Linked DNA regions of Homo sapiens. The protein of the gene in region 1 purifies or fractionates together with the protein of each later gene. This does not show direct contact. Each region holds a gene or a part of one and is shown on either strand. Other genes may lie near its edges.

What was found.
Region 2: the proteins of GDPD1 (region 1) and ORM1 purify together in Homo sapiens (affinity purification with mass spectrometry; 3 studies listed by BioGRID and IntAct, with this or other methods). This does not show direct contact.
Region 3: the proteins of GDPD1 (region 1) and CP purify together in Homo sapiens (affinity purification with mass spectrometry; 3 studies listed by BioGRID and IntAct, with this or other methods). This does not show direct contact.
Region 4: the proteins of GDPD1 (region 1) and A1BG purify together in Homo sapiens (affinity purification with mass spectrometry; 3 studies listed by BioGRID and IntAct, with this or other methods). This does not show direct contact.

The regions. Positions count from the first base shown.
Region 1 is NC_000017.11:59,219,139-59,223,346, forward strand, and holds the start of GDPD1 (lysophospholipase D GDPD1), read left to right. Parts: upstream 1-1,372; 5' UTR 1,373-1,471; coding exon 1,472-1,613; intron 1,614-4,208. UniProt on the Homo sapiens protein: Hydrolyzes lysoglycerophospholipids to produce lysophosphatidic acid (LPA) and the corresponding amines. Shows a preference for 1-O-alkyl-sn-glycero-3-phosphocholine (lyso-PAF), lysophosphatidylethanolamine (lyso-PE) and lysophosphatidylcholine (lyso-PC).
Region 2 is NC_000009.12:114,321,801-114,325,989, reverse strand, and holds the start of ORM1 (alpha-1-acid glycoprotein 1 precursor), read right to left. Parts: upstream 2,893-4,189; 5' UTR 2,857-2,892; coding exon 2,743-2,856; intron 2,328-2,742; coding exon 2,185-2,327; intron 1,973-2,184; coding exon 1,902-1,972; intron 1,201-1,901; coding exon 1,093-1,200; intron 942-1,092; coding exon 838-941; intron 1-837. UniProt on the Homo sapiens protein: Functions as a transport protein in the blood stream. Binds various ligands in the interior of its beta-barrel domain. Also binds synthetic drugs and influences their distribution and availability in the body.
Region 3 is NC_000003.12:149,204,738-149,208,336, forward strand, and holds part of CP (ceruloplasmin precursor), read right to left. Parts: intron 2,881-3,599; coding exon 2,626-2,880; intron 1,603-2,625; coding exon 1,431-1,602; intron 1-1,430. UniProt on the Homo sapiens protein: Multifunctional blue, copper-binding (6-7 atoms per molecule) glycoprotein. It has ferroxidase activity oxidizing Fe(2+) to Fe(3+) without releasing radical oxygen species. It is involved in iron transport across the cell membrane.
Region 4 is NC_000019.10:58,344,591-58,347,594, reverse strand, and holds the end of A1BG (alpha-1B-glycoprotein precursor), read left to right. Parts: coding exon 1-242; intron 243-565; coding exon 566-573; 3' UTR 574-2,412; downstream 2,413-3,004.

The DNA.
Region 1 (4,208 bases):
GTGGCGCCTTCTCGGCTCATTGCAACCTCTGCCTCCCGGGTCCAAGAGATTCTCCTGCCTCGGCCTCCTGAGTAGCTGGGATCACAGGCACACGCCACCACCCCTGGCAAATTTTTGTATTTTTAGTAGAGATGGAATTTCGCCATGTTGGCCAGGCTCCTGACTTCAAATGATCTGCCCGCCTCAGCCTCCCAAAGTGCTGGGATTACAGGCTTGAGCCACCGTGCCCAGCCACCCCCTATTTTCTTCTAATTTTCTTTTTATAGTTGAGATAGGGTCTTGCTCTGTCGCCCAGGCTGGGGTGCAGTGGTGCAGTCATAGCTCACTGCAGCCTCGATTTTCCAGGCTCAAGCAATACTCCCACTTCAGCCTCCCAAGTAGCGTGACTACAGGTGCACGCCACCACGCCGGGCTTATTTTGTTTTATTTTTTGTAGAGATGGGGTTTCGCCATGTTGCCCAGGCTGGTCTCGAACTCCCGGGCTCAAGCGATCCACCCTTCCTTCCCGGCCTCCCTAAGTGCTGGGATTACAGGCGTGGGCCACCGCGCCCGGCTGAATCAGGATTTTAAATATTCACTCTGCTTTTCTAGTCCTGTGGGAGATATGGTCTTCTCCGTAAAATTTCTCCCTCAGTCCTGGGTGATTTATTTCTTTTGCATTGAAGTGTGTGGCTTTTCGTGTGTTAGCAGTTTGTAATTTGTCGGGTAAAAGGAAAACTAGTAGGGCCTTCTGGAACTTAGTTATCTGTCTTTCTAGGACTTTTAGGTAATACCTTATAACCTTAACAAAGTTTCCTTATTTTATACGGACTTGTAAGTCAACAAATACTTCTACAGTGCCTATTGTGTACAAAGAATGAGGATTGCACTTTCACAATGAAATGAGGGAGGACAGGGGCCGATCTCTCAGATATTTGACTGATAAACCAGTACCTTTTCTAGTATATGCGACCATAGGGGAAATTCTCTCTAGGCTAGATAAACGGAGGAGTTTATTTAGTGTTTTAGCAAGCTTTATCGCCTCCATAGGTACAAATTATTTGCATTTTCTAGAGCAAGGGATAAGACGCGCCCTGGAATCTTTCCTTTTTGATGTGGATTTTCCAATTAGGAAAGGCTGCCCGTGAATAGTCTTTTCTGCTTGAGTGATGGCCAACACACTGGCAGGTTTGCAAGCTTTCTCTTCATGAGGGTCCGTCCACAGAGCTAGGTGACAAACGCTCAGTCCAGGATCTCTGCAGGTTCCTACACGGGAGCCGGAGAGCGCCTGCGCGTCGGAGCCTCTTTGTTGCTGGGGCGCTGGGGTCCAGCTGCGCGTGCGCAGTAGGCCGGCACCGACAAGTGCGCTGCACCAGTGGCACCGGCTGGGGGCGAGCCGACCTCGAGCAGCCGCCGCCGCCGCCGTCGTTGCTACTGCCGCAGCGGAGTTCAGAGGGCCCGGAGGTGGGAGACTTCCCACACGGTGACTGAGATGTCGTCCACTGCGGCTTTTTACCTTCTCTCTACGCTAGGAGGATACTTGGTGACCTCATTCTTGTTGCTTAAATACCCGACCTTGCTGCACCAGAGAAAGAAGCAGCGATTCCTCAGTAAACACATCTCTCACCGCGGAGGTGAGAGGGGTCCCCAGAACCCGATGACGGAGGTGGGGGAGGCTGAGGGTCCTTTGCGGCTCCGCAAAAGGCAGCCGGGTGCCAATCCCTGAGAGTTTGAGGAAGAATGGGGTTGTGTGAATTGAGGGCTCTTCCGGAGGTGAAGGCTGTGTGAAGGGAAGGTCTCCTGAGGGGAGGGAAGGAGAGGGATTCCCGGTCAGAGCCACGGCGGGGGTCTCTCGAGGGCAGCAGTGTGAGGGGTTCTCTGAAACGGGAAAGACACGGTCGAGAATGAAGGGTAGGTGGAGCGTTTCTCGGCGGATGGAAGGATGATCGCAAGGTCCCTTCCTAGCAGCAAGACACAAAGGGGGAGCGCCGTGCAGAACCGAGGGTACCCCGCGGGGGGCACCGGGAGCACACTGCTCCGAGCGAGCTAGTGGCTGAGTGGATGGGAAGAGCCGAGGCGACGAGGAGGGCTGGGGATTTGCATGAAGCTGGACGAGCTGTAACCCCTTGTCTGCGGTGCTGGGGGCCCGTCCCACCCCCACGTTCCGAGCACTCATAATTGAGAAGAGAGGGAAACCGAGTCCCCCGAGCCAGGGACATTTCCCAAGGTCACAATTAGAGCTAGGGCTGAACTGAGACAGGAGCTACAGCGTCCTGGTCCTCAGGGCTGGAAACCTTGCATCTTTTTTTTTTTTTTTTTGAACACTGCAATAAATAAATAAATAAATAAATAAATAAATAAACACGCAAAGACACGTGGATTTTCAACAGACTAAAAATGATTTCGTTTAGGACAGGACAGTATTGTTTAAAGAAAACAAAAATAAGTTTCTTTTGGAAAAGTGTTTTGCTAAAAGGAGCCCAGGTAGTCCACCCTCTAATTTCCCAGATAACAGGCCAAATCTTTGCTTCTTCATTATTGTGTAATAATGTGTCTTCATTGCATTTCAACTATGATGTATAAAGTGCGGTGAAATTGGATTATTTTCAATCAATTTTAACTGTTCTTTAAGGCTGAATCTTAAACCGGTTTAAAATTTGCTTGAAATTTAATACACACTTGAAATGATAATTTCTAGGAGTTTACAGTCTAAAACTTGGTGTAGTACCATAATCACTTTACTAACAAGTATTGGCCAAGGAAAAAGGTTTTGAAATATAAATACGGAAGTACATTATCATTCTTCTATATAATTTTATTAGTTAAGCATAGTTCTAATGAGTGACTTCAATAGTATTCTAGCCTTCCCACTCATGAAAAGCCTCAGAGGTTTTAAAGGGTGGTCAGCCAAATGCCTTGTTATTGTTTATTTGGGTTATCTGTTTTAATAGCTACCTGGTTAAACTGTAGGATGACATTTAACTACTAAGGTGCCTTCAACCATTGGAACCAGGGACCGACTTTTAGTATTCAAGTTGCTGTCACAGAAGCAATTTTCTTTTTTCTTTTTGTGTTTTTGTTTGTTTGTTTTTTTGTTTGTTTGTTTTGAGATGGAGTCTCGGTCTGTCACCCAGGCTGAAGTGCAGTGGCGCGATCTCGGCTCACTGCAAGCTCCTCCTCCCGGGTTCACGCCATTCTCCTGCCTCAGCCTCCCGAGTAGCTGGGACTACAGGCGCCCGCCACCACACCCAGTTAATTTTTTTTATTTTTAGTAGAGACGGGGTTTCACTGTCTGAGCCAGGATGGTCTCGATTTCCTGACCTCGTGATCCGCCCATCTCGGCCTCCCAAAGTGCTGGAATTACAGGCGTGAGCCACAGTGCCCAGCCTTTTTTTTTTTTTTTTTTTTTTTTTTGAGACAGAGTTTCCCTCTTGTCGCCCGGGCTACAGTGTAGTGGTGCCATCTTGGCTCACTGCAGCCTCTGCCTCCTGTGTTCAAGCGATTCTCCTGCCTCAGCCTCCCGAGTAGCTGGGATTACAGGCTCCCGCCACCACGCACAGCTAATTTTTGTATTTTTAGTGGAGACGAGGTTTCACCATGTTGGCCAGGCTGATCTCAAACTCCTGACCTCAGGTGATCCACCCGCCTTAGCCTCCCAAAGTGTTGGGATTACAGGCGTGAGACACTGCACCCTGCCAGAGGCAATTTTCAATGATAGTAGTCCTATTCTGGGGATAGGCAGTACACATTACTTTTTTGTTTGTTGTTTACCGATTTACAAAAAGTATGCTTACTAAAAACTCCAAAACAAAACAAAACCAGATCCTCTAAAAAGCTATCTAAACTGTCATTGTGAATGATCAAAATTTTATTTTAGAAGAAATACTTGTCGATCTTTGAAATTTTGCAACACTCTGCAGGTGAAAAAACCCAGCACTCCATAGGCGTTAAAGACTGTGTGCTAGATTATCACAACAAGTATCAAAGCCAGGATAAGCTAGACCTCAAATTTTCGTTTACTGTTGAAAATACTTTAAAACTATTTTCTTCCTAGATATTAGGTCATTTCAATATTACCTCTTATATAAAAATTTCCATTCATTATTTGTAAATGCGGCATCAGTATTTATATATTTAAAGATGTAATGGAACTTTTTGTGATAATCTTATTAAATATCTGCAGACTCAAAATCTGTTTTACCTATATAATGGTCCTATAAACACTGTGG
Region 2 (4,189 bases), on another chromosome or scaffold:
ACTATGCAGATGATGTAACTGAGGAGCAGGGTGGCCTTGGGACCCATTCGAGGCTCCCTAGCCAGACAGTGGGGGTGCCAGGCTGTGGATCAGGTGAGCTGACTACAGTGGTTGTGTTCATAAGCCCTGTCCCAGGATCCTGGGACTGCAGATGGGGGCAGGAGGTAGTTCACACCACTGGTGGTCATCTCAGATGGCAAATGGAAGGAATTGTTTTTCTTTGAATAGTCATGGAAGTACTGCATGTATATATTTTAAAAATTGGAACCAGCTCATCGGTGCTGTGATTTCACAGGTATTGGGCACAGGGCCACACCAACGCAAGTCTTCCAAACACAGGTTTAAAGAAAAGTGTTAAGGAGCTCATTATAAAGTAATTTTCATTTGTAGCAAAAATCGGGATGGTGACTGTGGCCGTGCTGCAGTGTGGGTGACATTGAAAACCACAGTATCAATTCCCCACTGCACGGGTATTAAAAATGAGTGGGGAGTGGAGGTGGGGTGAAAGCCTGGGGTTTGGGACGCGTCTGTAGGTGGTAACTCCCCGCATTACGTCCCCTCCAATTGCCAATCCCCCAACCCCGTGGCTCACGCTGTTCCCTCCTGTTAGCTTTCAGGTCCTCCCTGGTTTCACAGGGACTTCTCCCTCCTGGGCTCTCATCCACCACCCCTGGGCCTCTGTAGAGCTCAGCTGTCCCTACAGTGAGGCAGGTGCCTAAAAGCAGAAGATCTGCCTAGCTGTGCAGCCTTGCCTGGCAGCTCTCCTGCTCTGGGCCTCTGGGGCTGCCCAAGTTGGGCCATGGACAAGGTGGGCACTGTCCAATCCCTTGCGTTTACCTTTTTCCAATCGGTGTACACGACATCTGACTTGGGAATGCGCAAGCAGTCGAGAGCTTCGTAGAACTCTCCCAGTTGCTCCTTGGTCGTCTCTGGCTTGTCAGCTGCAGGGGGAGCAAGGAGACTGACTGGGGACATGGTGGGGCCCGGCGGGAGGCCAGGGAGGGCTGGGGTTCTAGGGGCCAGCCCAGGGGTGGGTGAATGGGGGGTGAGGCCTGAGAGGGGCATGAGTTTGGGGCTGCTAAGCATGCCTACCATAGACAGACAGCCCCCAGTTCTTCTCATCGTTCACGTCAAAAGCAAGCATGTAGGTCTTGGTGTCCCTGAGGATCAGCAAGTGAGCGAAATGCTCTTGGCCTCCCACTGGAAGAGAAAAGGAGCCTCTGGGTGAGAACATGGGATGGCACAATGGTGTCTGTCTTACAGGTGAGGAGGCCTAGGTGTGTCAGTGGCCACACAGCCCATCAGTGAAGGCCCAGGGCTCCTTTGGGCCACCGTGTGCCCAGCCCCTGCTGCATGCCCAGCTCCACGCCAAGCACTTTCTGTACATGAGATCTCAGGAGCCTCACACAGACCGTGGCTGTCAGGGCCTTTCTCCGTTTTACAGATGAGGAAAATGAGGCCCAGAGAGGAGGCTCGGGATGCTAAATGGTGTCAGTTCAGCTCCATCAGCTCCCTGCCATGTGCCACCTCTGCGGTGATGGGGGACATAGTTGAAGGTACCACCTCTCCAACATACAGGCTTCTACCATTGGTTTGCAAAGGATCTTAAAGAGGGCATGAGAGAGAGGCAGATCTGAAGCCAGCCTGGAGTTCCAATTCTAGTTCTAATTATAAGCTGTGTGACCTTGGGGAAACTATTTGAGGTCTCTGTTCTTCTTTTTCCTCCTCTAATTCTCTCAGTGTCCTCTTAGAGTTGTTTCTGAGCACATCGTTAGAGCTCAAAAATGTTAGTGGTTATTTCTCTGTGCCCAAAGCCTCCAGGGCTCTACATCCAGCCCCCACCTTATGCTGGCCTGCCCTGTTCCCACAGTGAACCCTCCTGCCTGAGGGCTGGCCCTCACCGTATCTGGAGATGGTCCCATTTTCCCGCTGGACATTCAGGTAGGTGGTGTTATAGATGCACTGGTCCTGTCTAAAGCCAAACAGAAGGCGGAAGGAAAACAGGAAGATTATTGAGAAGTGGCCAATCGCCCATCACAGTCCTGGGGCAAGAGTCTGGTGGAGATTAAAGCCAGCCCTCCCGGTTCCACCCATGGGAAGGCCAAGGCCAGGAAGAAGGAGGGACTTGCTCAGGTCTTCTGGCCAGAAGCTGAGATGGGGGTGCATTGGAATGGGGGCTCTCACCGGGTCTGGTACTCTCTGAGAAAGATCGTGTCCTCTGTCTTGTTGGGGGTGAAGTAAAAGAAGGTTGCTTGGATCTCCTGAACCGACTTATTGTACTCCTCGTTTCGAAAGGCCGATGCGATATAAAACCACTTGCCAGTGATCTGGGGAGAAGGTGGGAGCTGGTGATGGGGGCTTGATGCTGAATCTTTGACTGTCAGCTGGGAGGAGACTCAGGCAGATCTCTCCCTGATTTTGCAGATGGGGAGATGAGGCCCCTGGTGGGCAGTGCGCATGCAGGAGCTCACCCTGAGGATCAGTCATTGCCCCCCAGGCAGCCCCTCCAGGCCCAGCACAGAACCGTCCTCCGTGAAGGACTCTGCAGTGAGGCTTCTGTGTTTGGAGGCAGGGGGTGCCTCCAGAGTCCCCTGGGCTGGTGAGAATTTCACCCTGGGGACCCAGAAGAGAAAAAGGCAGAGCCGGGAGTGGGGGTCCGACCACAGCCAGCAGGGAAAGGGAAGCCCAGAGAAGGGAGGCAGCTGCCCATGTGCTCAGGACAGGGCTAGCCCAGGCACTCACCCGGTCCAGGGTGGCGTTGGTGATGGGCACCGGTACTAGGTTGGCACACAATGGGATCTGGGCTTCCAGCAGAGGTAGGAGGCTCAGGACTGTAAGAACCCAGGACAGCGCCATACTGAGACCAGGAGGCACGTGGAGCCAGGCAGTGCTGGTGGCTGCAGGGTGCAGTCACCTTTATAATAAACTATGGGCGGTCACTTGGAGCCCAGCAAAAGTTTACTCTGTGTCTGTGACACAATCCTGCCAGCACTTGGGAAATGCCTCGCACAAAACCTCCCCCAAAGGCCAGCTCGGAGCACCGCCTCCAAACCCAGGTCTAATTTGAGTTCCTCACATGGAGAGGTTACAAAAGCCCTAGAGTATGGCTGCCCAAGGCCAAGGTGGGTGCGGGGCTGCAGCAACATTAGTAAACGTGTGAGTCCACAGATTTCCTAGAGAGGCCTCCCGCAGAGGAATCTCATGTCTTCATTCAATTCCTATCCCTCTGAGTGCCAAGACTTACTTCAGTGGGACCCAGCCACAAACCTAATGATGAAGCCACCTTTGAGGGTCCCCAGGCTGGCATGGGATGTATGTTGTGGCGGGGAGAGTTGGGGTGAAGGATGCCGGGGAAGACAAACATAGATTCAGTTCCACTGAGTGTGGCAACAGCTGTGTCAGAGCCAAAGTTCATTGGGGCCCCAACCCAGCCCTGGACGCAGGCACATTTCCAAAAAGGGACATCCAAGTTGAATGTCTATTTCCAGTAAATATACTACTCGAAGCATCTCCCAACATCTCAAACAGGAAACTGTCTCCCTGTTTTCCCCCATTCCCTGCCATCTGAGCAGGCAGCTTGCTTCTCTTTCACCAATACGCCCCCAATCCTGGAGCAGTGCCCAGCACTTCAAGGGCACTCGGTATATTCTGTGGAATGAGTGATTCCGTGGCCCATTTGTGTTCCTACCTCACGGGTCAAGTCTTTATTTGTATGAATAAATACTTTCAGAAAGTATTCATTTTTTTTTTTTTTTGATACGGAGTTTCACTCCCGTCCCCCAGGCTGGAGTGCAATGGCTCAATCTCGGCTCACTGCAACCTGTGCCTCCTGGGTTCAAGCGATTCTCCTGCCTCAGCCTCCTGAGTCGCTGGGATTACTGGTGCCCTCCACAACGCCCAGCTAATTTTTTTTGTTGTTGTTATTTTCAGTAGAGATGGGGTTTCTCCATGTTGGCCAGGCTGGTCTGGAACTCCCGACCTCAGGTGACTCACCCGTCTCGGCCTCCCAAAGTGCTGGGATTACTCAGAAAGTATTCTTACGGTATGATTATAATTTTGCATTCTTATTCATTTCATTCTGAATAACTTTCATATTTCAGTGTAGTTTGTAGTTAAAAGCTTAATGGACCCAAGATGGGAGAGTCACCTGAGTCCTGGAGTTCAAGACTAGCCTGGGCAACATAGTGAG
Region 3 (3,599 bases), on another chromosome or scaffold:
TGGAGCAGGGGAGTGGCATCATCTCATTGACATTTTTGAAAGATCACAGTACTGCTTTGTAAAAAATCGATAGTAGAAAAGGAAGACAAACAGAAAGAATGACTGGGAGGCTGTGGAAGTCATTCAGACATGTACAAAGAGTAGCTTGTGTACATCAAAGGACACTATCAAGAAAGTGAAAGACAACCTATAGAATGCCAGAAAATATTTGCAAATAACTGATAAGGAATTAATATCCTGAATATATAAAGAACTCCTACAGGTCAACAACAACAACAACACAAATCCCACTTCAAAAATGGCTGAAGGACTTAAATAGACATTTATCTGAAGAAGATACACAAATGACCAAAAAGTACATGAAAAGATCCTCAACATTACTAGTCATTAAGAAAATGCAAATCACAACCACTATGAAATATCACTTATGCTCATTAGGATGGTTATTATTAAAAAAAAAAACAAAACAGAAAATAACAAGTGTTGATGAGAATGTGAAGAAATTGAAACCCCTGTACATTGCTGATGAGCCTGTAAAATGGTGCAGTTGCTATGGAGAACAGTAATGTGGTTCCTCAAAAAATTAAAAATAGAATTACCATTTCTATTAATTATTTTGCATATCCAGCTAGAAGCGGAATCGCTTCTAGCTGGATATGCAAAATAATTAAAAGCAGAGATTTGAACAGTGATATTTGTATAACAATTGTTCATAGCAACATTAGTCACAATAGCCAAAAGGTGGAAATGACCCAAATGTTTATCAACAGATGAATGAATAAACAAAATATGGTATATACATACAATGAAGCATTATTCAGCCTTAAAGAGGAATGAAATTCTGATGCATGCTACAACATGAACAAATCTTAAAACATTATGCTAAGTGATATAAAAGACACAAAAGAACCAATATTGTATGATTCCACTTGTATGAGTTGCCTAGAATAGGAAAACTCATAGAGACAGAAAGTAGAATCGAGCTTATCAGGGGGTGGAGAAAGAGTGGAAGAAGGTTGTTATTGTTTAAAGGGTTCAGAGTTTTCATTTGGGATGATAAAAAAAAAGTTCTGGAAATGGATAGTGGTGACGGCTATGCAATAGTGTAACTGTACTTAATGCTGCTGAATCGTACAGTGCCACGTTTTCTGAAATGGGAAGCAAATTAATTGATTTATCTAATAGTATTCAGTGTTTTCTTAGGACTTTGTCAAGCATTTGATAACTTTTGAACCCATCTTTTTTCATGGACTCAAAACTCATAGTTCTCAAGCTCAGACTCTTACATCAAATACCTTAATAAATATTTAGCAGTCTAGTTACTCAATTTCAGATACCAATTAAAATTTTAATTGCTGAATTAGCCTTTTGTAGTTCCTTTGTGCGGGGGAGAGCATATTTTGAAATAGTACTCTTTTTTTGTAAATTACCTTCCAGGTGCTGTTAAGTTTTCTTTAGTGAAGATGTCTATACCAGAGGGAGCATAGTTCCAGATGATTTCCTCAGCGGCAATGTAGTAGTGTCTAACATGCTTCCCACGGATATTATCCTTTGATGAAGACTTGTTACACTCCTGGACCTGGAAAAAGGCTTGCAAACCGGCTGAAATGAAACAGAAAGAGGCATTGATTAATGAAGACAATGTTTCTCTCTCCTATTGCCCTGTAAACACTGCTCGGGTGATGACAAGTAGAAATTGAAGGAATAGACAGATAGCAACAGTACTATAAACTAGGGCAGACAGCTGTAAATAAATTAATGATGGAAAACTCAAGTTTAAAACAGATATACTTTGTTTTTTATGTACATACAGCATAGAGATATTAAGCATATATGTTTTCAAAATATGGTACCAGTTTCTGTGGGGTTTCACTTGGTAGTTCTTTCAATGAGAGAAAAAGAACAAATCTGTAGATAAGCAGAGAAGAGAGGCTTTGACATATTTTAAGGGGTTGCATTGGGTGGAGGAGGAGGTACAAGGAGGAGGTACCAAATGAGCTTATATTATTGCTGTCTTGTACAAGATGGTTGTGCATCTGCTGTGCTGGGCCTTCTGTGGCCCAGAGCATATTTGATAAAAGCAATTATATTTGCACGTCAAAGTAAAATATCTGAACTCCTATGTTAAACTTAATTTATTCAGTAGACCAATATTAAAAACTAATATTTTTCAAGAACAAGGAATGTTTTTATTGCCTAAGTTAAAGAGATAAAGGAAGGATTTATCGAGTTAAACTAAGGGATGGCCAGGCTCAAATAAAGAACAAAGTTAATTATACTTGACAGAAATAAGTCGAAAAACAGGGTGCTTTCCAGTGCAACATACAATTTTTCTGGATGTTACAACACTGGTATATTTTACAAAGCTGAGTAAGTATATATAGTACTATACTTTCAGGGCCAGTTGTTCTTTCCAAAAACTAATATATTTTCAAATTTCATTACTTTATAATATTCCTGTCTTACAGTCTTTTTTTATTACATTATTATATATACCATCATAGGGATAAAACTAAGATGCCAGTTCAAAGCTCAGATTATTTCAAAGATATTTAGCTTTTAGATTCTGATTCCCAGTAACCACCTTTTTCAGCTGACTGCTAATTTCAGGTAAAGATGTCCTACCTTTCAGATGGTTTAGATTCTGACAGCTGAGCATCCATTCTCCAGGGTTCTGGGCCACCATATAAGCATCAAACAGGGTAGCAGGAAAGAGGTTGATTGTGTCAATACGGTAGTTCTTGTTAGTCAGTGCTTGCCCGTGAAAGAAAGCTGCGTGCACATCAACTTCATTACCCATACCAAAAAGGTACCATTTTACTCTGTCTTCAGCACACATGGAGAGTCCTGGGAGACTTCCAAAAGTGTATCCATTCACAGCTGTAAGTCAAGAGCAGAGTTTGTGACTAAGAGTCATTAATGCTTGAGATAGTGAGAGTTACCTCTATATAAATAGAATCAATTTGGAATGGCAAATATCTGGCACACATGCTGGTATTCTTGCCCCCTATACTCATGTCAGACATTGCTAATCAATCACAGCACTCTTTCATTTTGGAACTGAATTCAGCCTGAGGATTCTTATCAATACCATATTAACAGATGAACACAATACTGAAGATAAAACCTATTTGCTGTCTTTGTTATAAACTGTACACATTGTGTGTGTGTGTAAATACAGAGGTGTGCATATATACATACATATAAACAAAACACACATAGAATTAATAGAAAAAAGATTGAATATTAGTATTCAATCAGTTATTCATCATGTTGGTAGTATGGATGTTTTTGCTTGTCAGAAAATTTCCAATTTTCTACCATAAATTTATTTTGTAAAAAGTACATAAGAATAGCTTTTTTTTAAAGATTGCAAGACAAAATTTTTAAGATTGGAAGAGATATGAAGGAGGGAAAAAATGTAGAAGGGCAGCAGGGACAGAGCCACAAAGACCTAAAAGTTCATAGGCAAGGTGGCCTGAAACCCTCAGAAGAAACTTATGGTCACTGTTCAAACTGGGTGGCCCTAAAAATTTCCCAAGTGGAAATTAGTTCTGGGAAGAATCCTGAGTGCACCACATGTAACACTGGTACCAAAT
Region 4 (3,004 bases), on another chromosome or scaffold:
CCTGGCGGGCCGAGATGCCGTCCTGCGCTGCGAGGGACCCATCCCCGACGTCACCTTCGAGCTGCTGCGCGAGGGCGAGACGAAGGCCGTGAAGACGGTCCGCACCCCCGGGGCCGCGGCGAACCTCGAGCTGATCTTCGTGGGGCCCCAGCACGCCGGCAACTACAGGTGCCGCTACCGCTCCTGGGTGCCCCACACCTTCGAATCGGAGCTCAGCGACCCTGTGGAGCTCCTGGTGGCAGGTGACGTTTCCCTGGGTCCCGGGTGCTGGTTCCGTCTGCTGATGTTTGCCTGGGCTGTGCCCACCTCCAGGAGGGCCTCTCCCGGCTCCTCCCTTGGGCACCCCTGGTTAGCGCTGGGTCTCCCCAGGGCTCGTGGGGGAATTGCGGGCGAGGAACCGCCCAGCAAAGGCCCTGCAGCTGGAGGCGCAGATGGGGGTCTCGGCTGGCAGCCGACCACGCGCTTCCTTCCGGGGGGGCGTCAGGGAGGTCGGCCTTGATTTCCGCGAGGAGGAGGGCATAGGATTTCCCCTCCTCCACCATTTCTCTTTTCTCCCGTTGTCTAGAAAGCTGATGCAGCCGCGGGCCCAGGGTGCTGTTGGTGTCCTCAGAAGTGCCGGGGATTCTGGACTGGCTCCCTCCCCTCCTGTTGCAGCACAAGGCCGGGGTCTCTGGGGGGCTGGAGAAGCCTCCCTCATTCCTCCCAGGAATTAATAAATGTGAAGAGAGGCTCTGTTTAAAATGTCTTTGGACTCCCAGGGCTGAGTGGGCTGGGATCTCGTGTCCTCAAAGTGGATGGGTTCTGGGGTGGCTCCTGAGGTAGAGGAGTGGAGAACTGGCTCTTAAGAGCACAGTTTTCTTTTCTTTTTTCTTTTTTGAGACAGGGTCTCACACTGTCACCCAGGCTGGAGTGCAGTGTTGCAGTCCGGCTCACTGCAGTTTTGACCTCCCAGGCTCAAGCGATCCTCCTGCCTCAGCCTCCCAAGTAGCTGGGAGCCTGGGCATGCATCGCCACGTCTGGCTAATTATTATTTTTTGTAGACAGGGTCTCACTGTGTTGCCCAAGCTTGTCTTGAACTCCTGGCCTTAAGTGATCCTCCCACCTCAGCCTCCTGAGTAGCTGGGACTACAGGCATGAGCCACCATGCCTGGCCAACTCACATTTTTCTTTCTATTATTTATTTTTTGTAGAGATGAGTCTCACTATGTTGCCCAGGCTGGTCTTGAACTCTTGGGCTCAAGTGATCCTCCCGCCTCAGCCTCCCAAAGTGTTGGGATTACAGGTGTGAGCCACAGCACCTGGCCAACCAACACTTCTCAGGGCCTCTTTCATCTGTGCTCTTCCAGGATGCTGCCTCTTACTCCCTGGGCACCTCGGCCTGGTCCCAGCAGGTATGGGCAGTTGCTTGAGGCTCCAGACATACTCACCTCTACCTCGACCACATCAACCCCATCACCAAGAGGAGGTTCAGGGAAGCTGCATTTTGTGGTCTTGTCCTCCCAGTCCAGGGTGGTAGTGCTGGGCTGTTCCCAGCCTCCCACAGCAGAGCTGGACGCTGTGGAAATGGCTGGATTCCTCTGTGTTCTTTCCCATTATCCCTCAGCTCTGAGTCCTCTTGTGCCATCTGACATCTGATGCCTTCCCAACCACTGCCGAGTTTCTGCCTGGAGCAGGGCCTCAAGGCCCTGGCACACAGAAGATGCGTATCAGTATTATCAACCAATAGTTGATGAATTGTGTTTTTCAACGAATTTGCTAGTGATCTGGTTTACTGCCTTAGTAATATCTAGTTCCTAATATGCCTATGCCTTTTAATGTCTGCACAGTCTATGATGATGTCACTTCTCTCAAGCCTGATGTGTCCTCTCTCTCTTTCTTGCTAGTGGTTTATCAATTTTTAAAACCTTTTCTTGTTTATTTGTTTTTGAGACAGAATTTTGCTCTTGTTGCCCAGGCTGGAGTGCAATGGCGTGATCTTGGCTCACAGCAACCTCTACCTCCTGGGTTCAAGTGATTCTCGTGCCTCAGCCTCCTGAGTAGCTGGGCTGACAGGCACCCACCACCACACCCAGCTAATTTTTATGTTTTTAGTAGAGATGGGGTTTCACCTTGTTGGGTGGCCAGGCTGGTCTCCAACTCCTGAGCTCAAGTGATCCACCCGCCTCAGCCTCCCAAAGTGCTGGGATTACAGGGGTGAGCCACCACGCCCAGCCCCAGCTTAGTTTTTTAAAAAGTTTATTTTAGCCATTCTAATAGGTATGTAGACATATCTAATAGTGGTTTTCCTTGCGTTTCCTTAATGTCTGATGATGTTAAGCATTTTTTCCCCAAGTGCTTAGTTGCCATCTATATAGCATCTTTGATGAAATGTCTGTTTATATATTTTGCACACTTTAAAATATTGGGTTGTTTTCTTTTTTCTTCTCTTTTCTTTTTTCTTCTCTTTTCTTTCTTTTTGAGAGAGTCATGCTCTGTTGCCCAGGCTGGGGTGCAGTGGCATGATTTCAGCTCACTGCAACTTCCGCCGCCCAGGTTCAAGCGATTCAACTCCCTCAGCCTCCTGTGTAGCTGGGATTACAGGCATGTGCCACCACACTGGCTGATTTTTGTATATTTAGTGGAGAGGGGGTTTCACCATGTTGGCCACACTGGTCTTCAACTCCTGACCTCAAGTGATCCACCTGCCTCAGCCTTCCAAAGTGTTGGGACTACAGGCATGAGCCACCGTGCCTGGCCTGTTTGTTTTCTTACTATTGAGTTTTGTTTGTTTGCTTTTGCTTTTTTTTTTTTTTTCCCGAATCTCACTCTGTTGCCCAGGCTGGAGTGCAGTGGTGTGATCTCGGCTCACTGCAACCTCCGCCTGCCAGGTTCAAGCAATTCTCCTGCCTCAGCCTCCGGAGTAGCTGGTACTACAGGCACCCACCAGCATGCCCGGCTAGTTTTTTGTATTTTTAGTAGAGATGGGGTTTCACCATGCTGTCCAGGCTGGTCTCAAACTCCTGAC